4 separate regions of the Homo sapiens genome follow, and regions 1, 2 and 3 are each linked to region 4. The links come from fine-mapping of genetic effects on gene expression. A gene starts in region 4. Each other region holds a variant in brackets. All regions are shown on one strand. Distances are between the middles of the regions.

What was found. PIP is the estimated chance that this variant, and not a neighbour inherited with it, causes the effect.
Region 1: its variant is fine-mapped to the expression of RAB3IP in fibroblasts (GTEx, PIP above 0.99).
Region 2: its variant is fine-mapped to the expression of RAB3IP in testis (GTEx, PIP above 0.99).
Region 3: its variant is fine-mapped to the expression of RAB3IP in subcutaneous fat (GTEx, PIP above 0.99).

The regions. Positions count from the first base shown.
Region 1 is chr12:69,687,092-69,692,091 of GRCh38, forward strand. All of the region lies in intron 4 of BEST3 (bestrophin 3), which reads right to left. It overlaps LOC105369823 (a long non-coding RNA gene), which reads left to right. Exons shown (of 5, transcript XR_007063358.1): 4 at 1,450-1,504; 5 at 1,610-1,985. Among named protein-coding and RNA genes, the nearest start is that of BEST3, 9.7 kb to the right of the region's middle. RefSeq lists enhancers at 1,235-2,434, 2,561-3,129. The variant T/C (reference allele first, on the strand shown) is at 2,211.
Region 2 is chr12:69,809,335-69,815,822 of GRCh38, forward strand. It overlaps RAB3IP (RAB3A interacting protein), which reads left to right. Exons shown (of 11, transcript NM_022456.5): 9 at 3,444-3,543; 10 at 3,630-3,699; 11 at 6,030-6,488. The coding sequence ends at 6,112. Among named protein-coding and RNA genes, the nearest start is that of MYRFL, 13 kb to the right of the region's middle. The variant C/T (reference allele first, on the strand shown) is at 4,241.
Region 3 is chr12:69,797,240-69,805,290 of GRCh38, forward strand. RAB3IP (RAB3A interacting protein) reads left to right here. Exons shown (of 11, transcript NM_022456.5): 7 at 2,970-3,098; 8 at 4,370-4,482. Among named protein-coding and RNA genes, the nearest start is that of MYRFL, 24 kb to the right of the region's middle. The variant A/T (reference allele first, on the strand shown) is at 4,499.
Region 4 is chr12:69,734,536-69,742,586 of GRCh38, forward strand. It overlaps RAB3IP (RAB3A interacting protein), which reads left to right and starts at 4,325. Exons shown (of 11, transcript NM_022456.5): 1 at 4,325-4,496. LOC101928002 (a long non-coding RNA gene) reads right to left here and starts at 4,015. Exons shown (of 4, transcript NR_110072.2): 1 at 3,743-4,015. RefSeq lists a silencer at 4,073-4,902.

The sequences.
Region 1 (5,000 bases), 49 kb before region 4:
CTTTTACCAAAGTTCCTGAGTTGTTTGGCTTTTAAGCAGTAAGTGACCCAGACCTGAGTTCCATTTATAGGGCTAGACTTAGAGCCAGAGCATCTGAAGTTAGAACTTTTATCTCAACATCCATTGACAGCTGGTGGCTTGCTTGGTTATATTAATGTCTGTTAACCATAAGTGTCACTGAAAATTCCAGTGGAGTCTCATCAGGCTCCCTGTAGTCATAGAAGACAGTCAAGAATCTTTACATTAAGATTCCAGGGCAGGCCAGGTGTGGTGGCTCACACCAGAAATCCCAGCCCTTTGGGAGGCTATGGTGGGAAGATTGCTTGAGGCCAGGAGTTCAAGACCAGCATAGGCAACATAGTGAGACTCTGTATCAAAAAAGAAAAAAAGGAAAAAAAGGGATTAAACAAATAAATAAGTAAATTGGCCAGGCACAGCGGCGCACATCTGTAGTCCTAGTTGCTCAAAAGGCTGAGGCAGGAGGATGGCTTGAGCCCAGAAGTTTGAGGTTACTGTAAGCTATGACCGTGCTACTGCACTCCAGGTTGGGCAACTGAGTGAGAACGTGTCTCAAAAAAAAAAAAAAAAAGACTCCAAGGCTTTAAGAAAATTAAAGGGTGTTTTTTTCCTCAGAGGTTACTGTCTTATAACTACTCTTATGAACTACTAAATACAGACAGAAACTATTTATTTTAGAGAGAGAGAATTGCAATGCAGAGATGTAAAGTTTAACTGTAAATATATTTGTGCTTGTTTATGACAATGATTAATTTAAGATAAGATTTGTAGTAAATTTTACTAATCCTTGAGTATGGGGACCATATTTGTTCTGCTTATAAGGGTAGTCCCAGTGCCCAGCACAGTGCCTGGCATATATTGTACACACAATAAACCTTTGTTGCATGAGCAAAGGCGTAATAGTTCTAGCACCAGCTTGGTAATGTTTCTTTAAGAGGAATGTATATAATTTCCTATTACATATCATTGTGCTTCTGGTAAGTAATTTTGAAGATAACTACTTTCCTCTCCTGATGCTTGTAAATACTAGATAAGATGTTTTGATTCAGTATGAGACCATACTATATGCACACAACTAAGGTCATCACTTGACTCAGCCAGGATCTGGAATTGTGCATCTGACTTGACTTGGAATGAATGACATCTCCCAGGGCAGGTGATTGGAATGACTGGAATTTTCCAGAGCAGATTTGTAGCCAATAGGCAAAAGTAACAGAGACTGTTGCAGTTTCTCTGATAAATAACTGATCACAGACCAGTTCAGGGACTTTTCAGCATAATAGACATTATTCCGAATTCCACTGTTGTATTTTTATTTTCATATAAGCAGAAACAAAAACTTTTTTATTTTTAATTTGAGAAATTTAACCTGTAGCATCAAATTATATATATTTCCCCAGCAGCATGTGTTTTGGTCTTGTTATTTTTCAGAATAATGTAACTTGACTGTCCAACTTAAAAGCAAGAGAAGTTCAAGGATGAGCAGGTATGTGACCTAGTTCAACCAGCGCCAGCCAAGAAATTGCCAGATGCTTCAGAAGGAGGTGCTGGTCCTCACTCTTGGCCCTCTCGCTTATTTCCTTCTGGCCAGCACTGAATCTATGGAGGCAAAAACCCTTGCAGAAGAAAGAGAAGCTGGAGGGAAACTGATTGCCTCAAAGCCCATTGCTTCCCAGAGCACAAGCCAGGGACCACCAGCCTCAGAGTCTCCAGGAGTTTGTTCAACTCATTGATTCCTGGAGCCCATTCCAGACCTACTGAGTCAGAATCTCTGGGAGTGGTATCGTGGGATCCAAATTTTTAGCAATATTGATTTTAACAATATGTAATGCACCCTGAAGTTTGAGAACATGTACTTTTTCTTACAGGTGATTTTATGTAGAGAATTCAACTGACAAGAAGGTCCCTCGTGCCCTTAACCTTGTCCCCACCCCTTTGGGGCCCTCAGTGCTTTACTTACCAGTCCTCTCTGCCCTCAGGCAGGAGCAGGTGCTCCGGCTTTGGACTCAGGGAATCTGCCAAACATTTTCCGCCATCCCTGAACTTCCTGTTCTTCCCAGAAACCTTGGCACAGGCAAAGGACAGTCAGAGAGTGGCGGAGGCATATGCCCAGTTGGAAGAACTTGGAAGCAGACCCCATGTGCAGACTCTGAGTCAGCCCTCTCTGCTGGGGAAAGCAGCAGGAAGTTCAG[T/C]GAGTCAGCGCTGCCGGTGACAGCGGGTGCCGGCCTGGGGCAGCCAGGAAGACAGGCCTCCGAAGCGTCTCTCCTGGCTTAGAGGATAGTGGCTTGGAACCTTTGCCCTGCCGCCTAACACACAATGCTTGCGTATAGTATGGTCTTATACTGAATCAAAACATCTTATCCAGTATTTACAAGCACCAAGAGAAGAAAGTAGTTATCTTCAAAATTACTTACCAGAAGCACAATATATTCCTGTGGGGACAAGATGTACCTACTACCTCTTTTCTGCCTTTTGAGAAAATACTTAGGAATTAATGAGAGCAACTGGGACCTTTTCACTGAGATAATCAGTGATTGTGTCACAGGACCCTTGGAAAGGCTTTCACCTCATCACAGCTCCTCTGTCAATTCTCTTCTCCCTTCATCCGCTTCAGACAAACCAACCAAAAAGTTTAAGTCAGAACAATGCTTGTTACATCCAAGCAGGTGGAATTCAGATCCCTTATACAGTAGCCTCCCACCAGACTGCTTCCTCAAAGCTCTTCTTTGTAATTCATGACCCTCAAGCTGAAACCTCGAATCCATCCTTTCTTAATTGCTGCTGCTTTGTTATCAGTAATGAGTTGGTGGTTGCCAAAGCCTTTTGCCCCAGGAGTGAGAAAAAGGGTTTAAAAAATAAGCATCCCAGAAAAGATGCAATACTTCTCAAACTTTGGGGTACTAAAAAAACCAACACAGGAGCATGTTTCACTGCAGATTCCTAGGCCGTACATCCAAAGGTTCTATTAGGTTCTATAATAATTCAGAGGGACTGACGTGGGTGGGACCCAGGAATATGCATTTTAAATAAATAAACTCAAGTTATTCAAGATGTAGAGGGCCTGTGGGTCTGTGGATCACTCCTAGAGACTAGTTTAAATGTACATCCAGAAGTGAAGGACTCATTTTGAGATTCCCTTGGAATGGCAGAAACATTGGTAGCTGAGCAGATAGAAGTATTTCAGTATTCCACATGCCTCGGAAAGGGAAAAGTCTGAATGCAAGTACATGGCAGACATCTGTACAATTTTGAGAGGGAGTGGGCCTTTGTATTCTGAAAAATACACTCAAAGGAAATGAAATCACGTCATTTTCCTATTTGCCTCCCTATATCTACTTGCCCCTCAGACCTGAGCACAGCTCAGTCCTCGGAGCTCATGTCTGACCAGAGGCCCCAGAGGCCTCTCCATTGCCAGCCAACCTGGCTTCTTCCTGGTGTGCTTTTAATATGAAGGTGACACTAAGAAGATGAGATTTGCTTTGAGGATTGGACCCGGCATCTGATTCCTGTCAGAATGCACTCTCTTCATTTCAAGGATGCGTCAGAACTAGAGAAATATCACCTCTGTTCATCCAAGTAAACTTTAGCTCATCAACTTGGAATAGGTCATACGTTTCTTGTTTGTTTTTAGGTCTTTCTTAGAGACGGTAATTCTTAATCTATTTGTTCCTGGAGACATTAAGGTAAGATAAAATTGAGCTGTCTAGTAGCATTTTTAACTAGGTCATTCTGAAACAGTATTCTACTTTCATATTTGGAGGAAGGATGGCAATTAATTTTTTTTTAAAGTTCCTACTGATTTTACATTATCATATACCTGTACATGTGCCAGGCCTTCAGACCCTCCCCCTGAATCCCCCTTAACCAACTCCTGGCACCCATTACTTTCTCATATCTCACTCTGCGTCTCTAACAACATCATCTACACCCTTCTTCCTTATTTCAACCTTGACATTCACAACCTCTTGATCAAAGTAGATAAAAAAGACCTGGGATATTATATTAATAACAAGTCTTCTAAAGTGGCTACTGTGCTATGTTATGCTGTTGTTTGAGATGTAATTTCATTACAATGGCAAGAAATTATGCAGCACTTACTGTGTGCCAGGAATGCTCTAAACATTTTGCAAATGCTAACTTTTTTAATCCTCATAACAAGCCTATGGGATATATGAGGTAGGTGCTATTATAAGTTACTTTAAGTCCATTTTATGGATAAGGAAACTGAGGAACAGAATGGTTAACTAACTCAGACAAAGTCATGTAGCTAGTAAGCTGTGAGATAAAGTTTCAAACCCTTACTCCGTGTTCTTAATCATTGTGAAATTTGATAACATAATTGGGTCATTCTTGTCGTACCCAACTAAAACAGAGTCAAGAAGCCACCAGGAAAAAGCAGTTGAGGCCAGGCATGGTGGTTCACGCCTGTAATCCCAGCACTTTGGGAGGCCGAGGTGGGCGGATCACAAGGTCAAGAGATTGAGACCATCCTGCCAACATGGTGAAACCCTGTCTCTACTAAAATACAAAAAATTAGCCAGGCGTGGTGGTGTGCGCCTGTAGTCCCAGCTGCTCGGGAGTCTGAGGCAGGGGAATCGCTTGAACCCAGGAGGCAGAGATTGCAGTGAGCCAAGATAGCGCCACTTCACTCCAGCCTGGCCACAGAGCAAGACTCTGTCTCAAAAAAAATATTCTTTGCAGGCCTGGTTGCTGAAACTGCCTGCTATTACCTGAAACCAGTTTTATAGTTGCTGAAATGATCTGCTGCAACTTGAAGACTAATTTTACCCACCTCCATCACTCACCAGTCAAAACTTGCCAGCTCCCCAGAAACTTACTAGTGCCAATGAACTTTCTCAAAGAGCAATATGTAACATTTCTGTCTTTTTATAAAACCTCCAACCTTCTCTTTGTATTTTGGACATACTGAATACCATCTGGTCTGTGTGTATGCCTCAAACTGGAGTTCTTTCTTCTCAAAT
Region 2 (6,488 bases), 74 kb after region 4:
TTTTCCTTTATTTCAACTTTGGTGAATCTGACAATTATGTGTCTTGGAGTTGCTCTGCTCGAGGAGTATCTTTGTAGCATTCTCTGTATTTCCTGAATTTGAATGTTGGCCTGCCTTGCTAGATTGGGGAAGTTCTCCTGGATAATATCCTGCAGAGTGTTTTCCAACTTGGTTCCATTCTCCCCGTCACTTTCAGGTACACCAATCAGACGTAAATTTGGTCTTTTCACATAGTCCCATATTTCTTGCAGGCTTTGTTCATTTCTTTTTATTCTTTTTTCTCTAAACTTCTCTTCACGCTTCATTTCATTCATTTTGTCTTCCATCACTGATACCCTTTCTTCCAGTTGATTGCATCGGTTACTGAGGCTTGTGCATTCGTCACGTAGTTCTCATGCCATGGTTTTCAGCTCCATCAGGTCCTTTAAGGACTTCTCTGCATGGGTTATTCTAGTTATCCATTCGTCTAATTTTTTTCAAGGTTTTTAACTTCTTTGCCATTGGTTCGAACTTCCTCCTTTAGCTCAGAGAGTTTGATCTTCTGAAGCCTTTCTCTCTCAACTCGTCAAAGTCATTCTCCATCCAGCTTTGTTCCGTTGCTGGTGAGGAGCTGCGTTCCTTTGGAGGAGGAGAGGCGCTCTGATTTTTAGAGTTTCCGGTTTTTCTGCTCTGTTTTTTCCCCATCTTTGTGGTTTTATCTACCTTTGTTCTTTGATGATGGTGACGTACAGATGGGTTTTTGGTGCAGATGTCCTTTCTGTTTGTTAGTTTTCCTTCTAACAGTCAGGACCCTCAGCTGCAGGTCTGTTGGAGTTTACTGGAGGTCCACTCCGGACCCTGTTTGCCTAGGTATCAGCAGTGGTGGCTGCAGAACAGCAGATAGTGCTGAACCGCAAATGCTGCTGCCTGATCGTTCCTCTGGAAGTTTTGTCTCAGAGGAGTACCCGGCAGTGTGAGGTGTCAGTCCGCCCCTACTGGGGGGTGCCTCCCAGTTAGGCTACTCGGGGGTCAGGGAGCCACTTGAGGAGGCAGTCTGCCTGTTCTCAGATCTCAAGCTGCGTGCTGGGAGAACCACTGCTCTCTTCAAAGCTTAGCTGGAAATGCAGAAATCACCCGTCTTCTGTGTGGCTCACGCTGGGAGCTGTAGACTGGAGCTGTTCCTATTCGGCCATCTTGGCTCCACCCTCCAGAAATAAAAACTGGTTTAGGTTTTTGAAGCATAAGGGTAATTTGGATAAAGAGCAATACATAACAACTGAAGGCCTAGAAACAAATCAAAGTGCGTTCAAAGGATGGTCAGTGTATGGAGAGGAAAGGGAAGATGTGACATTTTAAGAAAGAAAAGTTAGATTGGGGTGGGGGGATGGGTAAAGGAGAAAGGAGTTAGAGATATCTGACTGGAAGACTGATTTGAAGTGATTGTGGAAATTAATGGAAAAGGCTTTGATTTGTGGAAGAGGATTACGGTCTAGATTTAGACATATTGACATCCTCACATGAAAATGGGAAACAAGGATTTGAAATCTTGGGACTAGAGTTATAGAGATTTATTAATGTAGTGTAGCATGTTTGGGAAAAAAATGGAGTTGGAGGTCAGAGGTCTGTTTGCATTGAATCCTGGCTTAACTAAAAATACATTAGGTGTGTCCAGTTTACAAAATAGCTTAGAAATGAGATCTTTTAAGAAACGCTATACACCATGGAATACTATACAGCCATAAAAAAGAATGAGATCATGTCCTTTGCAGGGACATGGCTGGAGCTGGAGGCCGTTATCCTTAGCAACCTAATGTAGGAGCAGAAAACCACATGCTGCCTGTTCTCCCTTATAAGTGGGAGCTAAATGATGAGAACACATGGACACATAGAAGGGAACAACACACACTGCCGCTTGTGGAAGGGTGGAGGATGGGAAGAGGGAGAAGATCAGGAAGAATAATGGATACTTATTCTTCCTGAATCACCCAGGGTGATGAAATAATATATACAACAAACCCGCATGACACATGTTTACCTATGTAATAAACCTGCACACCCTGCAGTTGTACTCCTGAACTTACAAGTTAAAAAAAAGAAACACTTATTATTTTAAAAGTTGATACTTAAAGCCACCTTACCAGATCCCTTTCAAAATTAGGCTAAACAGTAGACCAGCAGGCATATGTCTGTTTCCAGAAGAATAGTGTATAAATTGGTTTTTAGCAGCTTAATGGCACATTTTCCTCTTATGCAAATTATACTTTTGGAAGTTCCACAGACTTCCAACACTTTGTGCTTTAAATTTCTGTATCTTCTATCCTCCCCAAGCTAGTAGTTAGTGCTTTTAAATATTGTTACAGATCATTAAAGGAATTTGCTAATAAAGAAACAATGAAGAAATATCTATTTGAAAAAAGACAGGAATTGATTTGTGATTTGAATTGCCCCCTCCTCAAAAATTATCCTGTTTCAAATACACATTGTTGTGTGTTTTCTTAATACAAAGGCACTTTTGTATTATATTTCTTGTATCGCTAAAATGTAATGTTATTTAATATATTTACTATATAATTTATACTGTCATATAAAATGCTGTTTGCCACTTACTTAGAGCTATGCTAATTTTGCATTGATGGGGAGTGATAGTTGTATTGAGCCAGGTTCCTAGCTTAGGGTGACAGCTGGGCTGCTGCAAGTCCGGCCTGATAGACATGCTAGCTTTATCTCATGGAGCCATAGGGTAACAGATGGCTCATTACTTATTCAGCAGTCATTGAATGTGTGCTGTGTGCCAGGCATTTAAAGATGAATCAAAGTCCCTGCCCTCAAGAGGTTGATAGCCTAATCCCAGCCAGAAAGCCCTCATATAAAATTTTAGCTTTTGTCATATGCAAATAGAAAGGATCATGTGAAATTCAGTGAACTTGTTACATGATTGTTAAGATTCAGTATTTTTATAAGGTGGCTTATTCCTTTGTACTTCTCCCTAGGTCCCACATTAAATGCATATAGAGCAACCAACCAACCAAATAAACAAATACCCCATCTGGAAACTATTACCCTGCAAGCTATCAATAACATGCTTTGAGACTTGAACAGTCATCATGAGGATATTTTCAGCTGAGAAGCTGAAATCCTGATGGAAAGCTGAGAGCTGTCCTGCAGCTGATTACTGATTTGTAAATTTGTTCCAAGATGGGACATACATGGAAAACACCTAGTTTCTGTTTCTAGAATCATGGTTAATGTTATGGCATTAAACTTATACTACTAATAGAATGTAAGTCTCACAAGGGCAGAGACTTTGTCCTTTTCATCACTTTAGCCCAGCATCTAGAACGGTGCCTGGTACACAGTAGGTTCTCAAATATTTGTTATCTAACTGAATGAATAGGCAACTTGTACAGAAGGTAGGGGCAAATGCTTTTCATTTCAAAAAACTGAAATTTATCATTATTTCACAGAAAATGTGCTCTCACTGGCCAGAGTAAGTCCTGTAAACACAGAATTAAATTAGGGGACTCAAGCAACTATTATTATATTTCTCCTTTTTGCAGATACAGGGTAAGTGACTTAACCATGAATTTTAATAAAGCTTGCTTTGATATGGGACATTTGACCATTCATGACATTTTCTCCATTTGGCCTAGATCACTTCTGTATGTAACTTTTTTACATACATTCGATACATTCAGCAGGGACTCGTGAAACAGCAGGATGGTGAGTGTTCTTGATTCAATATAAGTCTTTACATAAAAGTTCAGCAAAAAGTATAAGTAAAGTTCAACAAAAAGTATAGAATAGTAGTAATGCTCATATCAGCTTTATTGTTGGTACATTTATATTGAATCCCTTCTATAGTTCTAATAAAATTTGTGGAGAATTTGGGAACAAATGTCTTTTAGAAAAATATTGTGTTTAATTATTTTATTTGCCTCATTTTACTCTTAATTTTGAATTTTAAGCAGGGTCAGTTTTAACTCATAAGGGGTATATGATAAACCAGATGGTAAATGAGAAGAGAGTTCTAAGCTCATTGAATTGACTCTTTAAGAGATGAAAATGAGTAGGCCAGCAAAGTGGTCAGATTTATTTTAATTGATGGAAACCATCATGGAGCTCAAAATTAAGTTTTCCCTGTATTTTCTACTTTTTGCGTGTGAATTAATAAAGCAGTCATGAGGATAATTCTGAATGGAATAAAGATTGCCATATTCTAAATCAGCAGAAATGTGCAGGTGATATATCCAGGAGAACCAAC[C/T]TCATGAAAGTGTGTTAATATTTTTAATACAATTTTATAGCTAAATATCTTAAATATCAGGCATGAAAACTAATATGGCCTGACAGCTCCAAAGCAGTATCTCTCGAGCACAAATGATAGTTTAAAAAAAAAAATAGCAGATACTAGGCTAGGGACAAGTCTGTGCCAGTTAGTATTTAAAGTTTTACAAAATTTCCCTGTTTATATTTTTTAGGCACTGAAAATATTATCTTGCTTAAACACTGGTAGAAGCCTACCATCTTTCAATCATGTAAAGCAGTGAATCTTAATTCTATGGAGAAGTTAGTCACGCTGATAAAAACTTAGTTTAGCCTTTCTCAAGGTCTGGTATGTTGAAAAATGTCATATTTCTTTAAAATCCCATATAGTTGGATTTTAATGCCTAAAACATTAGAGATAAAACCTGTTAACCTAATAACCTGATAACCTAATTAATGTTGAATTTCAAAAGGCCTAATAACATAAAAACAGTCTTTAAACTGTGTAATACTTTTTTTGACTTTAATAAAACTGAATTCTTTTTGAATACCTGTTGATGGATAATATAATTTAAGCCAGAGAACAGAAAATTTATGTTAAGTATAATTGCCAAGAATATAATATTTTTCTGTTTGTTTAAATAAGAAGCTTGGAAAGACAGAAAGATAATTTACTTTATGAAAATAGGAAGAAAGTGTTACGAGTAATGAATGGTGAGGGTGTTGATAATAAAAGTAGTATATCTTCTCTGGTTTCTGTCACTCTTCCACTTTATGATATTTAGTACATATCATTTAGTATGTGTGTTTGTTGTAAACAGGTATTAGTCTTAAAATCTGTTTATTATATGTGCCTTGTGCCAACAAAGGATTTAGGGCAGCTAAATCTAAAGCAGAATTTCTCGACCTTGGTACTAGTGACATTTTGAGCTGGATAATTCTTTGTTGTGGGGGACGGTCTTGTGCATTTGTAAGATGTTTAATAGCATCCCTAGCTTTTACTCATTAGATACCTGTAGCACCCCCGAGATGGGACAGTGAAAAATGTTTCTATTCATTGCCAAACGTACCCTGGAGTGGCCAGGGAATGAGGAGTGGTGGTGGTGGTAGTGGTGGAATCTTCCCTGATTGAGAACCATTGATCTAAATGAATATAATCTGATCATATATCAAACGAAGACCTTTTATTGTCTGAAATAAGGAGCCAACGTTTTTCCACTTACAGTGGGAACTTACAAAAGTATAGGTAATTGAATTTACAATTCATCTTCCACATGCATTTTTATTTCTAATTTGAGCCATACACAAAACCTTTCTGTTACTTCTCACAACGTTACTGAGTTTTCTGGATTGTCTTGTTTTCTTTTTTTGCCCTTCACCCTCTGGTAGTGTTAATGAAGAGTAAAATGGCCGCGATATAACAAACTAGAGCAAGAAGATTCGTAAGTTAGAGAATAGCTCGAATAATTGAGTATTGAGTATATTCACTTAATGAAGGTAACAGCATTGACATTTACTCAGGATGCTGAATGTCTACCTTTTCTTGGGCTAAAATGATAGTCTCTGATGTATTTAACAAATAATTGTGACAAAACTGGTGACTTTTGCTTTATTGATAAAACTGGGATGGTCACAAGTCTGTGGAAAAGTTTATGTGAATTATTGAAAAAATGTAGGTACATCTTTAGGAAATGCACAATTGACATTTCAGCTAAGGTTTTCAGCGAAACATTAAAAATAATGAAGATGGTATTTTATGATTTAAATATCTCTCTTTTCTGTTTGTATAGTTGATCAGATGTTTTGGGAGGTTATGCAGTTGAGAAAAGAGATGTCATTGGCAAAGCTGGGTTATTTCAAAGAGGAACTCTGATGCTCTGCGTGGGACCATGCCTGAACTCCCCGAATAACTGAAAAATGGCTGAATATTTTTATGGTTACTTGATATTTATTTCCAAGGAGTGAGCCTAAGACTTTTTTCCCCTTTTGCAAATTGCTCTAAGAAGTACCATGATTTCTTTTAAACTGATCTATGCTGTGTTTGCTTATTCTTTAGTTGAACACACTATGAAGAATTCCAGGTGTACTAGTGAATGTAATTTATAGTTGCCAAAAAAAAAAAAAACCTGAAATAAATAAATGTTAGATTGAATGTGTGTACATTTTCTCTTCTAGCTCTGACATGGCATTTAGGGTTAGCAGAATGTATTAAATAGTAATTTTCAAACTACACAGTAGCTTCCTTCCTT
Region 3 (8,051 bases), 63 kb after region 4:
TTAGATTTGAATTCGGACTTTACTGCTTTCTTGCTATGCAATCTCCGGCAAATTACAAATGGCAATCATAATATCTGTCTTGCACAGTTGTGAGGATTAAATGCTTGTAAAGTGCTTACGGTGGTTCCTGGCAGAGTCAGCTCTTAATAAATGGTTTAAATTACAGCCTTTAAACTAGAATCTTTCCTTAGAATACCACTTACCTGCTTTGGGGTTTATGTCCTTTTTCTTTTCTTTCTTTTTTTTTTTTTTTTTTTTTTTAATAAATTTGCATCTTTCTTTTTTTTTTAATTATTGTTATACTTTAAGTTTTAGGGTACATGTGCACAATGTGCAGGTTAGTTACAGATGTATACATGTGCCATGCTGGTGCCCTGCACCCACTAACTCGTCATCTAGCATTAGGTATATCTCCCAATGCTATCCCTACCCCATCCCCCCACCCCACAACAGTCCCCAGAGTGTGATGTTCCCCTTCCTGTGTCCATGTGTTCTCCTTGTTCAATTCCCACCTATGAGTGAGAATATATGGTGTTTGGTTTTTTGTTCTTGCGATAGTTTACTGAGAATGATGATTTCCAGTTTCATCCATGTCCCTACAAAGGACATGAACTCATCATTTTTTATGGCTACATAGTATTCCATGGTGTATATGTGCCACATTTTCTTAATCCAGTCTATCATTGTTGGACATTTGGGTTGGTTCCACGTCTTTGCTATTGTGAATAATGCCGCAATAAACATACGTGTGCGTGTGTCTTTATAGCAGCATGATTTATAGTCCTTTGGGTATATACCCAGTAATGGGATGGCTGGGTCAAATGGTATTTCTAGTTCTAGGTCCCTGAGGAATCACCACACTGACTTCCACAATGGTTGAACTAGTTTACAGTCCCACCAACAGTGTAAAAGTGTTCCTATTCCTCTACATCCTCTCCAGCACCTGTTGTTTCCTGACTTTTTAATGATTGCCATTGTAACTGGTGTGAGATGGTATCTCATTGTGGTTTTGATTTGCATTTCTCTGATGGCCAGTGATGGTGAGCATTTTTTCATGTGTTTTTTGGCTGCATAAATGTCTTCGTTTGAGAAGTGTCTGTTCATGTCCTTCGCCCACTTTTTGATGGGGTTGTTTGTTTTTTTCTTGTAAATTTGTTTGAGTTCATTGTAGATTCTGGATATTAGCCCTTTGTCAGATGAGTAGGTTGCGAAAATTTTCTCCCATTTTGTAGGTTGCCTGTTCACTCTGATGGTAGTTTCTTTTGCTGTGCAGAGGCTCTTTAGTTTAATTAGATCCCATTTGTCAATTTTGTCTTTTGTTGCCATTGCTTTTGGTGTTTTAGACATGAAGTCCTTGCCCATGCCTATGTCCTGAATGGTATTGCATAGGTTTTCTTCTAGGGTTTTTATGGTTTTAGGTCTAACATTTAAGTCTTTAATCCATCTTGAATTGATTTTTGTATAAGGTATAAGGAAGGGATCCAATTTCAGCTTTCTACATAGGGCTAGCCAGTTTTCCCAGCACCATTTATTAAATAGGGAATAAATTTGCATCTTTCTTAAGAAAGAGTAACAGACTTAGGTCATTAGTGTGTGCTCATATAAATCAATATATGTTGGGAACAAATACATTTGAGAAGTTAATATTAAACAGACTGTTAAATTGGAGATGTGACATCTCTTATTAGAGCCAGGAGGTAAGTGAATTAGGAACAAAGATTAAAGAGTCTTATTTAGAAGATAAATGGAATTGAGGAAGTGTCCTTTTTCTCAGTAACTTTACAAAGAAAATGCATTTGAAAATGTAAGTATTGCTTATATGCTAATATTATTTATCCTGTTGCTTTTGCTTTGATTCAAGGAATTTATGAATTGGGCTGAAAAAAATATTCACATGGAGATTGCCCTTATACACCTTAAAAGGAAGTCTGTAGGAAGGCTTGGCTACACTCAGCTCTATGTTACATTTTTGTAGACTACTTGCACATCTGATTGAGCTATCCTAGAGGCAGTCTGTAGCTGTAGTCAGTGCATCATTTATGGTGTATCCAGTGCCTCTGGAGAAGAGCAGCTTAGAGCTGTAGGATGGGGGAGACTGCTCTAGTTTGGGTGGCTGATGTCAGTGCAACTTTGTATTCCAGCAGATGCTATTGAGCTGGACTGAGGGAATCTGAGAATCTGTAGGGAAGAATACTTGGGGAAAATTTATTAGGGAGGTGAGAAAGAGAGGGATAGCTGGAGGAGTGAATAGGAAGGCAGGTGCCAGCAGTGGATTATTATTGATGCCTAAGATGGTAGTTACTGGGTGCCAAAAATATGTCAAAAATATCTAAATAAATGTTGTATTTTAAGGTAGTTTAGAAGGCTTTACGTATTCTTTTTTTTTAATCCTGTTGGTTATGCAATAACATTTTGACAATTCTTTTTGGAATGCCTTCAAGTTATAGTAGAACAATTAGTGTCATTTTTGATCCCAAACTAGGTTTCACAGTTCAGCCAGTCTCAGTTTATTCAGACACTATAATTAATTAGGTTCCAAATTACCTTTTTATTGTTTTCAGAAAAGACTTGTCATCATTTATTATATTCTGAATAGTGTGCCACCTGTGTCTTAAGAGGAACTCCAGCATTTTTGGTGGGGATGGGAGAAGGAGCTCAGAGTGAGGATAATAGTAGTGTTATTGAACATGGTAGTGAATGATGCTTGGAAAAAGGCTAATTGGTTATTTGAGAGTCATTTTTTAAAAAGGAAAACTGCTACCAGGTATTATGCTACCAGGTATTATTTGAGAGTATTTTTTAAAAAGGAAAACTGCTACCAGGTATTGAACCACCAAGAGTGGTTCAATTTATTATTTTAAATGAAGAGCTTTTTTTCAGTGATGTTTAAATTAGTTTTGGTTTTGTAAAGCGGTTTTTATGTTTATACGTTTTAAAACATGTTTTTGTGTTTTCCTTTGGTTTGTTAGGCTGACTTATCCTTGTATAATGAATTCCGATTGTGGAAGGATGAGCCCACAATGGACAGGACGTGTCCTTTCTTAGACAAAATCTACCAGGAAGATATCTTTCCATGTTTAACATTCTCAAAAAGTGAGGTAATTTTTTTTCATTTTAGTAGGAATTCATTATAGTTGTTTCTGTACTTCTTTTAAACTAAATCATATTACATATTTTAATATCTCTTACATAAATAAGTTATTATAAAATGTCATGTTTTGCTATTTTTGCCATTCCGTACTAGAATCATGATAATTTCTTGGCATTCAGTTACTGAACATCTTTTCTTATATGAGCAGAGGATCATTCACACTCAAATGTGTACTGCATTGGTGTCAGGTATTAAATAGGTATGGGGGATAGGACTTATTTCTTGATTTGCAGTCCAAGGTTCAGTGTAAGGGAAGTTCTCTACACACTCTGTTAAAGGCATTTGTTGTGTCTATCTGTACATGATTTAAAAATCTAATTTTTTATCTTTAAAACAGGAAAAGTAATGCCTTCTTTGCCTGTGCCACAGGATTGTTAAAAGGATAAAATGAAGTGGATTAAGTAGATGCAAAAACCTTAGAAAAATAAGGCAGTATAAAAATTTAAAGCTGTAATTTTAATTTGTTCTTACATGTGAAAGGTTTGTCTACAAATATCCGGTCAATTAAAGTATAAGAAATTTAATCCTAAGAGTTTTATGTTAAGTCTTTCAAGCATTTAATTATAACGTTGCTTACCAGGAGAAGTTAAGATGAACATTTTTCACACTTTTGGTATGAATATATCTTGTTCATTGTGGCTCTGTATCTGGTTTCAGGTAGGCCATTCAGTATTAGTAACCTTGCCAGACTAAAGAGGTTTTCCTGTTTCATCTGGTGTTAGTTGCTACCGTCTTCATCTGGGCATTTAATATTTGATAATTCAGCTAATTCTTTTGTAGACTCACTCTTGTGCACATAAATACAAATTCAGAAAATATGCAGCTAATTAATATATATTGCTGTGGTATAAATGACCAATGTTTAAAAATATTGTATATATTTAGCAGAATAAAGCTTTAGGATATTCATTTTGAAGTGGCATTAACTGTGGATATTAATCGTGGGTAAGGAGTGAACAGAGACTGGAATTGATGCCTTGAATCCTCGTCCAGATAATGAGGAAAGTTATTTTACCATAAGTGAATTGCCTTTCATAACAGTGTTTGGATTATAAAATAAATCAAACCAAAATTATCTGATTTCTTCCTTTTTCATTTGCTAAAGCCAAGCTAGTGGAACTTTGGAGAAGAATAATTTATAAAATTCGTTTACTGTAGAATACAATTTTGATATTTTTCTGCCAGTATAGCATCTAGTACTTTTTCTTTTTTTTTAAGTTGGCTTCAGCTGTTCTGGAGGCTGTGGAAAACAATACTCTAAGCATTGAACCAGTGGGATTACAACCTATCCGGTTTGTGAAAGCTTCTGCAGTTGAATGCGGAGGACCAAAGTAGGTTTTTACGTGC[A/T]TGAACTGTGAAAGTGACTGAGTTTTTGAAATGTTATGGGTTGCAGTTATTTAGTTTTTCTGGTTTTAAATGTAGTTATATTTCCCTCAGATTTCTCTTAAGCGTCTGTGTAGCCTAGCCCAAAGACAAATTCCTGAGACAGTGTGGAATATAGTATTTCAGATTTAGCATTAAAGGAGAGCCCTTTTAATTATAGGTTGGTGCAAAAGTAATCGTGCTTGTTGCCATTGAAAGTAATGGCAACAAGCACAATTACTTTTGCACCAACCCAATACAGTAATATACATATATGATAGAGATCCAGGTAAACTAGAGATAGAAACCGGAGTTGTTTTTGTTTTTGTTTTTAACCTCATATTGTGACCTATTAGTGGATTGTGAAATCAGTTTAGTGGGTCATAAGTAGAATTTTTTTTATTACACGTATATGTGTAGCCATGTGTCCTGGGTTTCTGTATAAAATACTTCTCTCTGAGGGTGACCATCAAAAATAGTTTGGGAAGGTACTGAGTTAGACTAAGTCTTATCGATCATGAAAACTGTGTACCAAAAAGACTTGATGAGATCTCTCTTTTCATATTGTGTTTATAAAGGATTCTCACTTAAATAAATAATCAGTTTTGTCTTTCATATGTGAGTCTTACTTGAGAATTACAAATCTTCAGAGATAAGACTCCCACATTTCATAGCAGGGCAGACTTGTTTTCCATCCAGTCCTATAAGGAGGAATGACTGAAACCAACAGTGCTTAAAACATCTAGCAAAGACGAAAGGTTTTGCCTAAAACCGTGGCATAATTGTGTCTTGGCTTCTGTTTAAAAAATGACTTGGAAAGCTTTTGAGAAAGATGCTTATTAAGTGCTTAGAGCCAGATCAATATAGGGGACTGGAAAGACTGAGAGAGCTCATAGAAAGCATAACTGACTGCTGTCAGGGTTATTTTGAAGCCAGAAGAGGAAAAGACTGGTTGAGATGAACTAATAGGTCTGTGTTAAAGCTGTTGTAGGAATTGTGTGCTTGTTTCTATTCCCTGTTACGCACGTTACGGTCTCAGCAAGATTACAGAATGTTGTTGTTTAGGTGACCATTTGTTGGAGGGTTCCTAGTCATATGTTTGCTCTGTGAGCCACACGTCCACCTCGCTCCCTCAAGCCACACGTGTAGCACGGTGGCCTCTGAATTTTAGGGAAAGAATTTACATTCTTAAATTCTACAAATACCCAAGTATTTTTGTTCTGATCCTTCCACCCCAAATATGGAGAGTTAAATTTAATCATAGCAGTTTTCTTATTTTTAAGGTCTGTGTCATGCCTCATTTTAAATATAGCATATAACTGTTTTTATTGTAGAATTTAAAATTTGTGCTTGCATTATATATCACATATATATGTGCAGATATCATCAAATGATAACAAATGGGGATATCAAATTAAAGTGGATTTATAGTATCTTTAGTAAAATAATTATAGTTTAGATTTAGAGAACAGTTTACAAAGTTTAAGGATATTGTGCTTGTGGGAATGGGGCCAGAAACCAAGGTGATGCATATCGTGGAAAAAACTAAAGGAAGATACTGTCTTCCTTTATGAAATGTGAAGTGTGGCTTTGGCCGTGGTTCTTGTGAGCTAGAGTGTGAAGATAATGACTAAGTGAGTGGCACAGCACTGTAGGAATTTTGAGGAAGACAAGATCATTCAAACTATGATTAGGTACTCTTCTTGAAGGAAGAGAGATTTGGTTTAAGTTTTTTTTTTAATTTTTTTATTATTATTATTATACTTTAAGTTTTAAGGTACATGTGCACAACATGCAGGTTTGTTACATATGTATACATGGGCCATGTTGGTGTGCTGCACCCATTAACTCATCATTTAGCATTAGGTATATCTCCTAATGCTATCCCTCCCCACTCCCCCAACCCCACAACAGTCCCCGGTGTGTGATGTTCCCCTTCCTGTGTCCATATGTTCTCATTGTTCAGTTCCCACCTATGAGTGAGAATGTGCGGTGTTTGGTTTTTTTGTCCTTGCGATAGTTTGCTGAGAATGATGGTTTCCAGCTTCATCCATGTCCCTACAAAGGACATGAACTCATCATTTTTTATGGCTACATAGTATTCCATGGTGTATATGTGCCACATTTTCTTAATCCAGTCTGTCATTGTTGGACATTTGGGTTGGTTCCAAGTCTTTGCTATTGCGAATAGTGCCGCAATAAACATACATGTGCATGTGTCTTTATAGCAGCATGATTTATAGTCCTTTGGGTATATACCCAGTAATGGGATGGCTGGGTCAAATGGTATTTCTAGTTCTAGATCCCTGAGGAATCGCCACACTGACTTCCACAATGGTTGAACTAGTTTACAGTCCCACCAACAGTGTAAAAGTGTTCCTATTTCTCTACATCCTCTCCAGCACCTGTTGTTTCCTGACTGTTTAATGATCGCCATTCTAACTGGTGTGAGATGGTATCTCATTTTGGTTTTGATTTGCATTTCTCTGATGGCCAGTGATGATGAGCATTTTTTCATGTGTGTTTTGGCTACATAAATGTCTTCTTTTGACAAATGTCTGTTCATATCCTTTGCCCACTTTTTGATGGGGTTGTTTTTTTCTTGTAAATTTGTTTGAGTTCATTGTAGATTCTGGATACTAGCCCTTTGTCAGATGAGTAGGTTGCAAAAATTTTCTCCCATTCTGTAGGTTGCCTGTTCACTCTGATGGTGGTTTCTTTTGTTGTGCAGAAGCTCTTTAGTTTAATTAGATCCCATTTGTCAATTTTGGCTTTTGTTGCCATTGCTTTTGGTGTTTTAGACATGAAGTCCTTGTCCATGCCTATGTCCTGAATGGTATTGCGTAGGTTTTCTTCTAGGGTTTTTATAGTTTTAGGTCTAACATTTAAGTCTTTAATCCATCTTGAATTAATTTTTGTATAAGGTGTAAGGAAGGGATCCAGTTTCAGCTTTCTACATATGGCTAGCCAGTTTTCCCAGCACCATTTATTAAATAGGGAATCCTTTCCCCATTGCTTGTTTTTGTCAGGTTTGTCAAAGATCAGATAGTTGTAGATATGCGGCATTATTTCTGAGGGCTCTGTTCTGTTCCATTGGTCTATATCTCTGTTTTGGTACCAGTACCATGCTGTTTTGTTTACTGTAGCCTTGTAGTATAGTTTGAAGTCAGGTAGCGTGATGCCTCCAGCTTTGTTCTTTTGGCTTAGGATTGACTTGGCAATGTAGGCTCTTTTTTGGTTCCATATGAACTTTAAAGTAGTTTTTTCCAATTCTGTGAAGAAAGTTGTTGGTAGCTTGATGGGGATGGCATTGAATCTATAAATTACCTTGGGCAGTATGGCCATTTTCACAATATTGAGTCTTCCTACCCATGAGCATTGAATGTTCTTCCATTTGTTTGTATCCTCTTTTATTTCATTGAGCAGTGGTTTGTAGTTCTCCTTGAAGAGGTCCTTCACATCCCTTGTAAATTGGATTCCTAGGTATTTTATTCTCTTTGAAGCAGTTGTGAATGGGAGTTCACTCATGATTTGGCTC
Region 4 (8,051 bases):
ACAGCCATGATGGATCATAAGGTAGAAGCTGCATTTCAGGATGGTAAAGCCACATGATGGAAGGAGCCCATGGATCTGCTGATTAGAGAGTCACCTACACTGATGTGAGAGTAATACATTTTATTTTCTTTAAGCTACTGTTACTTTGAGCTTTTTAACTGCTACAGAAATCAATCCCTGTATGAAAATATATAGTTTAGGATAATTTTCTGGTGGCAGTAATAGGAATCATTCAAAGCTATGTAAAGCAAAAAAGGGAGAATTATTTTAAGGACAGAAGGATTTCTCACAGAACCTATGGGAAGGGATGAAGGAAGCCTCAGTAATAGAGCGATAGCTGGAATTAAAAAGTAAGGGGAGGCCAGGAAGCCCTCTCACTGTGTCTCATCTCTCCTTCTCTTCCTTCTTACTGAAAATTATTTACACAGTTGTCACAGAGAAGCTACAAATAAATATTTGTTTGATGGATGGCAATTTGTGTGTGTGATAAACTGGATCTAAAGTCAATTCTCAAAACGTTTTGTTATATATATGTAGCTTGTTAAAGTGATTCTTTTGAAGGGGGGAATCATACTTTTTAGAGTCTAAGCTCTCTCTTAAACCCTTTCTCTCAGCTTTCCAATTTTTCCCAGTCACTTATTCCAACATCAGAAAGGGGGCCTGAAATACAGGATTGTCCATAATTAATATCATGACAGACACTTTTGAGATTGCTCTGCTTTTTTACAGGAGTTGCAAAAGTCAGTTTTTATGAGAACACAAGCACTGGCACTCACTGACTATTTTGGCAGACAAGGAAATGATAGATTAATTACTTTTGGTACATTTTTCCCATAACTGTCTTTTTTTTCCATTTCATTTTTGCATTGTTACTATTTACCAGTCTGAGTTCTCACTTACACCTAGTTTTTGCCCTTCAGGGTTTCTTATATTCTTGCCAACTCTTTGATATGCTTGATAAGATGTTTTATATATATTTATATATATTGCTTTGGGTTTGAGAATCAGCCAGAGCCTCTAGTCTGCCATACTACTGGACACAAAAGTTCAATATGTTTTCACTTCATTCGTTTATAAGATATTAACCTGCATTCCAAACACCAGGGCCCTAACTCTGGTGGCCTAAGCTCCCCATCCACAAAAATGAAGAATAACTACCTTTCCACCTGCATCAAATTGTTTTTTGTACAAGACTCATGTAATCATTAACATGAAGTCAGTTTGCAACTGGAAAATACCATGAAAATACATTTTCTTAACTCTGAAAACAAAACAGAGGCAAACAAGTAATAAAAGTTATAACTAAGGGTAACAACCTTAGAATGGTTTGTTCAATTTACAATGTCTATATATTTGCACTCATCTGCTTTTTTTCTGGCCCAAGGTATAAATGAGAAAGTCTTAAGATAAAAAAAAAGCAATATTATTTTATACGTTATATTTGACACTAATTGTATAATTTACATTTTTAAAAAATAAAGAGAAAAAAATAAAGAGAAAAAGGCAACCTTGAGCACACTATAAAATCTTTCACTCTTTTTTTTTTTTTTTTGAGATGGAGTCTCACTCTTGTCACCCAGGCTGGAGTGCAATGGCGCGATCGGCTCACTGCAACCTCTGCCTCCCGAGTTCAAGTGATTCAAGGTTCAAGTGATTCTCCTGCCTCAGCCTCCCGAGTAGCTGGGATTACAGGTGCCAGCCACCATGCCCGACTAATTTTTTATGTTTTTGGTAGAAATGGGGTTTCACCATGTTGGCCAGACTAGTCTTGAACTCCTGACCTCAGGTGATCTGCCCACCTCAGCCTCCCAAAGTGCTGTGATTACAGGTGTGAGCCACCGCGTGCGGCCTTTTGTTTTGTTCTTTTGAGACAGGGTGTCACTCTGTCGCCCAGGCTGGAGTGCAGTGGCGTGATTTCGGCTCACTGCAGCCTCCGCCTCCCGGGTTCAAGTGATTCTCCCACCTCAGCCTTCCAAGTAGCTGGGACTACAGGTGTGTGCCACCATGCACAGCTGATTTTTTTTTTTTTTTTTGGTAGAGATGGGGATTCACCACGTTGGCCAGGCTGGTCTCGAACTCCTTACCTCAAGGATCTGCCCACCTTGGCTTCCCAAAGTGCTGGGATTACAGGCATGAGCCACCGTGCCCATCCAAATCTTTCACATTTTTAAATTTTGTGAAATAGCTGTCCTTTTTATATATGGGTAAGCTATCAAACTTAAGATGCTCACAGCCCTTTACATACTTTGTAGGCTGAGATTCTGAGTGTCTAATATTCTGTAATGTATCTTGGTCTCTGTGCTGCAAGAACACTGAAGTATTATTATAGGTAACAATCTATATCACTCTTCTCAAACAGCGCTAACAGGTTAAGTATTCAAGAGGAACATCTTTCAGTATATTTCAAAAAGCCTCATGGATGGTAGGTGATTTGTAAATGGACCAACGCAGGACTCAGGCATATATGGTTACTGCTTACTATTTCCTATAGATCATGATGTCTTAGGTCTTATGTAGAATATATCATAGGACTTGTCCTCTAAACATTCACATACCAAGACTGCACTCTGCATGCATGCCATTCACTCATTCTGCATTTACTGAGTCAGTCCTACTGCATGTCAGACCTTGTGCCTGTTCTCAAGAAGCTCGCAGTCCAGGAAAATGGAGAAATACAGATACAATTATAACTCTATGTGATAAGTGTTACAAAGAGATACGGTGTTATGGAAGCCCTGGTAGGGGCACTTAGCCCATACTGGAGTGGCTGGGATAGGGCTGAGTGGCCAACAATAGGGAAGGGTTCACAGTGGAATTGATGTCTAGGCTAAATAATGAATAACAAATAATTAGCAAGGCAAGGAAAAGGTAGGAGATCAAGACATAAAAATAAACAGCATATGGAAATACAGGGTTGTATGTGAGTACGGCAAGACTGGGGAGCCTAAGTGGTTTGCTGTATATTTAATTTATTCATTTCACGTAGCTACTATTGACATACTTGTCTCCCTATATATGTTTGAGTCCGTGGATGGTGGGGACTTTGTAATGGTTTCTCTGTCCCTATGTCTAACAGGAGGCACACAGATGGAGTGCAATAAAATGTCTGATGAATAAATGACCAGCTATGAGGTGTAAGGGAGAATAGGAATCCATTAATGAGAAAGGTCATTTCTAGTGGCAATGAATATCAGATAAGATAGATTTAAGAATTATTTAGAAATTAGGATGAATAAGACTTGGTGATATATTGGCGATGGGGTATAAAATAAGAAACACTGGCTTTCTAGGTTTCTGGATTACAGATGCATGATAATAGTTATAATGGTATAATAACAATAGCTAATATTTATTAGGCACTCTGTGTCATGAAGTACGCAAAGTGTTTACATGAATTAAGCCATTTAAACTCTTAATGACTCAGTGAGGCAGGTTCTGTATACTCATTCACTGATGAGAAAATTGGGGCTAGAGAGATTCATTTGCCTAAGGTCACTCAGCTAGCAGGTGGCAGGCTCAAGCCCAGTAATTCTGACTCCAACAACCATACATATAGTCTACTTTTCTTTACTGCCTCTAATAGATGAGATTAATACCCAGAATGATGGTCCTATTCAATAAGTGTATCACACAAATGCACGTTTCTCTTTTGCTAAACATAGAGACACATACTATGACTACCTCTATTATTATTATTTTTTTTTGATTTTTGGGATCTTGGCTCTTTCTGTATTTTTCCTACCTGGAAGACCTAAAGTGGGGTAGAAGTTTGATAAAACAGTTGGCACAAAAGATGAGAGAAGACAGGTACAGACATGACATTCTCGAACGCTCTGGCAGTTGCTGGAATGATGGGATCTGGGTTCTACAGGATTCCTCCCCTCCCATCTCCCGCCACACACACACACGTCGTAAGGTGTATATGGCCGCGGAGTCTCAGGTTGGTTCTAGGAGTCCTCAACCCACGGCAAAGGTGCCTCTTCTCCCTCCTGGAGAGCCCAACATGCTTGAAGTTAACCTGAGGCCGCCTCTCGGGCCCGGCGAAACAGAGCGCGGGCCCGACGAAACAGAGCGCGGGCCCGACGAAACAGAGCGCAGCTCCGGCTCGCGCTGGTTCCCAGGGAAACCGCCCGCGGAGGAACCTCGGGCCAGGGCCGTGACACCTGCGACGAGCCCCGCCTGGCGCCAGGGGGCGCGGAAGCGCGTCCGCCCCCAGGCCCCATGCCGGGCTCGCCCCGCCCCTGCCGGCCACACCCCCCTACCCCGCCCTCCCTCCGTGAGGACCGGCCGCTCCCGGCTCCCGGCCCCCGGCCCCGCTTCCGGCGCAGGCGCAGTCCCGCGTTCCCTCGGCGGCTGCCGGCGTAGTGAGCCCGCCGCCGTGGAGTGTAGCGGAAAGGGCTCGCCGTCCTCCTCCGTTTCTCGCTGCTTCGGGACGCGCTCTCTGCGGCTCTGTGAGCGCCCCTGAGCGCCGGCAGCGGCCGCGGTGGGTTCTTCAGGTGAGTGCGGCCGCGGGAGGGAGAGGCCCGGAGCGTAGAGCACCGCCCCCCTCGGCGCCCGCGCGCCCGCCTCTGGCGAGTCGGCCAGGAGGGGCGGCCGCGGCAGGTGCAGGTGCTGGCGCCGTGCAGGGCGCGGCACGCGGGGGTTCGGGGGGATGCCCAGGCCCGGTGAGCTCGCTCTCCGCCTGGGCACTTGGGCTCCGGGCCCTTGGGGGCGGCGTGTGGGGGGGACTTTGGCGACCCGGGTCAGCCGGCCGCCCCCTGGGCTGCTGGTGGGCGTCGGGCGGCGGCTCCTCCCCCGGGCACGGGCGCGTTACACATTAACTGCGCGGTCCCGCGCGCCCGGGGCAGGGAGCCCGAGTCCAGCGGGTTACCTGGCGGCGGGCGGGCGCGGCCGGGAGCGGAGGGCCGCGGTCGCGAAGAGGATGAAGAGAGAGTTCCCGAACAAGTCGGAAGCAGCTCACAACACCGGACGCCGCGCGGCAGGGCTGTGGACCTGGGGTGGTTTCGTGTCCCAGTCTTAGGAAACTACGCGCGAGGCACCGTGCTGAGGCGTAGAGGTCACCCTCGGGAGGTTTCGGTGAAACCTGGTGGGAAATTCCGGGCAGGCGCCCGGAGTCGCGCCCAAGTAGGCAGCTCCGTGCCGCCAGACTTGTGTTCGGGGGAGTTGAGACGAACTGCACGGGTGGGATTGCATGGCTCTGCCCTCCCAGCGTTGACAACTCGCCCCGACCGCCCAGGAAGCGCGAGCTTACTGGCTCCAGAAGTGATGATGCTGGGTGGAAGTCGCAGCATGTGAAGAGTTGCCGGTTGTTATGGGATTAAAAAAGATGAAAGGGTAAGGTCTTGAAAGACACGAGCGCTGAGTTAGTTAGTACTGATTACTGAGAGGCAATTTAGTTTCATGGAAATGTTGCCTGTTCGGAGGCTACCTGTTATACACTCTCCTGTTTCACCCCAACTCCTTCCGTTCAGTGTCGGGTTAAAAGCCTTGTAATCTCTTGCAGTGGAATGATTGCATAATTGGAGGAGGGGCCCATAAGAGGATTACAACAAAACTGTTCCATTGTAAATCAGTTGAAAGACCCAGTTCTTGTTCATTATCCTTTTTCTCATTTTGTTGTTCATGAAGGTTTTTTTTTCTTCCAGTGCTGAATGACAAATCAAGGAGAAAAGAGGCAGAATAGGGTTGTAGACCAATCGTAGTAAATATTTGATACTGTTAAATATTTCACCAGTTTTATGGGGCCTTGTTCTGTTATCATTTGTTATTTATTTACTAGTACTGTGCATTTTGATAGGACTTTTCATGTTTGGACAGACAGTGTATTCCAGATGCGGCTTATGTGATCTAATCCTAAAGCCCTTGTGGAATTTATAGAAATAAACAGTTATACAATTAAGTAGTCCATTTTTTAACTATTAAATGAAAAGCCATTGCATTTTTTTCCATTACAGTAATGTTACATATTAATGTATACCTTTGTGAACCAAAGTGTTTGATACAACTCTTCCTTCTGTGTTTGGTAAACAACTCATCTGTGGTACTGAATACTTGTAATCTTTCACCAGGATGGCCATTTAATGTTTAGCTGCTTTGTGGGATTTCTGAATAGATCCTATTGTACTTTTTGAATTAGTGCAGTTATCCATATGTTTCCTTTAATATTCTTTACCTTTGATTTTGTCTAAACTCTCATCCTCCCCCAACACACACATCCTCTACAAATAATTTTTAAAATGGAAAGGTTCTTAGAAATGTTTCACCCCCTCATTTTTTAAATATGGCACGAAAAAATACTTTGTAGATTACAGTAGTTTTATATGCATTATAGTAGTTACTATACTTTTTTCCTCCTCAACAGGAGTCAGTGAACAAATTAGTGAGCTGGCTGAATGAAAAATTATTTAATGTTCAGCTCCATCACTTACTGTGCATAAAACCTTGAGTAAAACATTTAACCTGTTTGAGCTTATTTTCTCCATTTGTCAGTGGAAATACTATTAGGTTGAAATTGCTAATATTCTGCTGTTTTTTATGTTTCAACCTAATATGAACTTCATAATGGTAAGATGAGGATTTAATAACATACTCCATTAGAGATGTGGGGAAGGGGAGAAGGAACCAGTGTGAGCTTGATTGTGTGCAAGGCACTGTGTGTGCTTGTTTTCGATACCTTGACTCCTCAGTCCTCTGGACATTCCCGGGATATAGGTGGTTTATCAAATTTTACAAGTCAGGAAATGGAGGCTTAGAAAGTTGCGATAATTTGTCTATGGTTACTTAGTTGTAGGTGGTCGTACAGCTGGCCAGTGACAGAGCCGGTATTAAAAACTGTATCCGACTGCCCAAAATGGAACGTAGTGCTTTTGTTTCTTACATTCCTGGTCTGCACCTTCTATTAAAGAGCTTTGTAACTATAAGGAGGCACACAGATGACAAGTGTTACCATTTGTATTTCTGGTTTAAAAATATCCAAGTTTTCTGAAGACGGTGATACCAGCATTGCTACTACAGTTACTTTTAAGTCTAGTGCTTATCAAGCGAAGTCCTGGTGTAAGCTTTATACTCATTTACTCTCAGAGTGAGCGAGGAGATAATACTTTATCCCTATTTTGTAGTTGAGAAAATTGAGACCCTGAGACCTTATGTAGTTTGCTCAACGTCACATAGTTAATTAAGTGACAGGTCTAGATTAGATGTCAGACAGTTTGTCTTCCATGTCTGTGCTCTTAACCACTACACTCTGTCATTTCTTCATGTATAAGTGGTAATGCTAAAGAATTGTTTGCTCATAATCACTACATTATCACTTCTTTATGTGTAGCTTATAATGCTGAAGAACTTTGTAATTTAGCTTTTATGAGATACGTAATGTTAATGTAATATGTAATTCTCATTGTGTCACCAGAGATTTTTTTAAATCAAATACTCATTGAGCATCTACTCTGCAAGTCACAGTAGGGGTTAAAGGAAACTGTTCTTAAGGAATATGGAAGGTAGGGCCTTATAATCATTCCCATATCTTTTATAAGTTCTTCAAAATGTAGAACGCACTTTACATATTTTAATGAATGTCAACTAAGACAAAGTGCTAGGATAGTTGAGTAGTGGAGAGGAAGGACAGATGGATAGTGGGTAGAGATATTTGTGCATTGAGGTAATGAGGGAAAGCTTTGAAGATATTCCAAGGGAGTACGCTTTTTCACACTAAACTTTTTTCCGATATAATTCTGATTAAGATGCAGTTCATCAAAGGATAGTAAATTGGTTACTACGCATTTGATATCCTAAAAACAAAATATCTGAGCTTTTGTAAACTGCTTTCTAGCTTGTTTCTCCTTTTTTATGCTACTATCCTTAGTTGTACCAGATGGTACTCTTTTTAAAAATTTTATGCTTTTATAATACTGAGTACCTCTTTTTTGGTATTTATGAACTTTGATATTTGTGTTGTATTTGTAATTGTTTCTAGGGCCCTAGAAACATGTTTATTGGCAAGGTGGTCTCTTCCTCTAGTCTACAAGTGCTTCGAGAGTAGGGCTTACCTCATT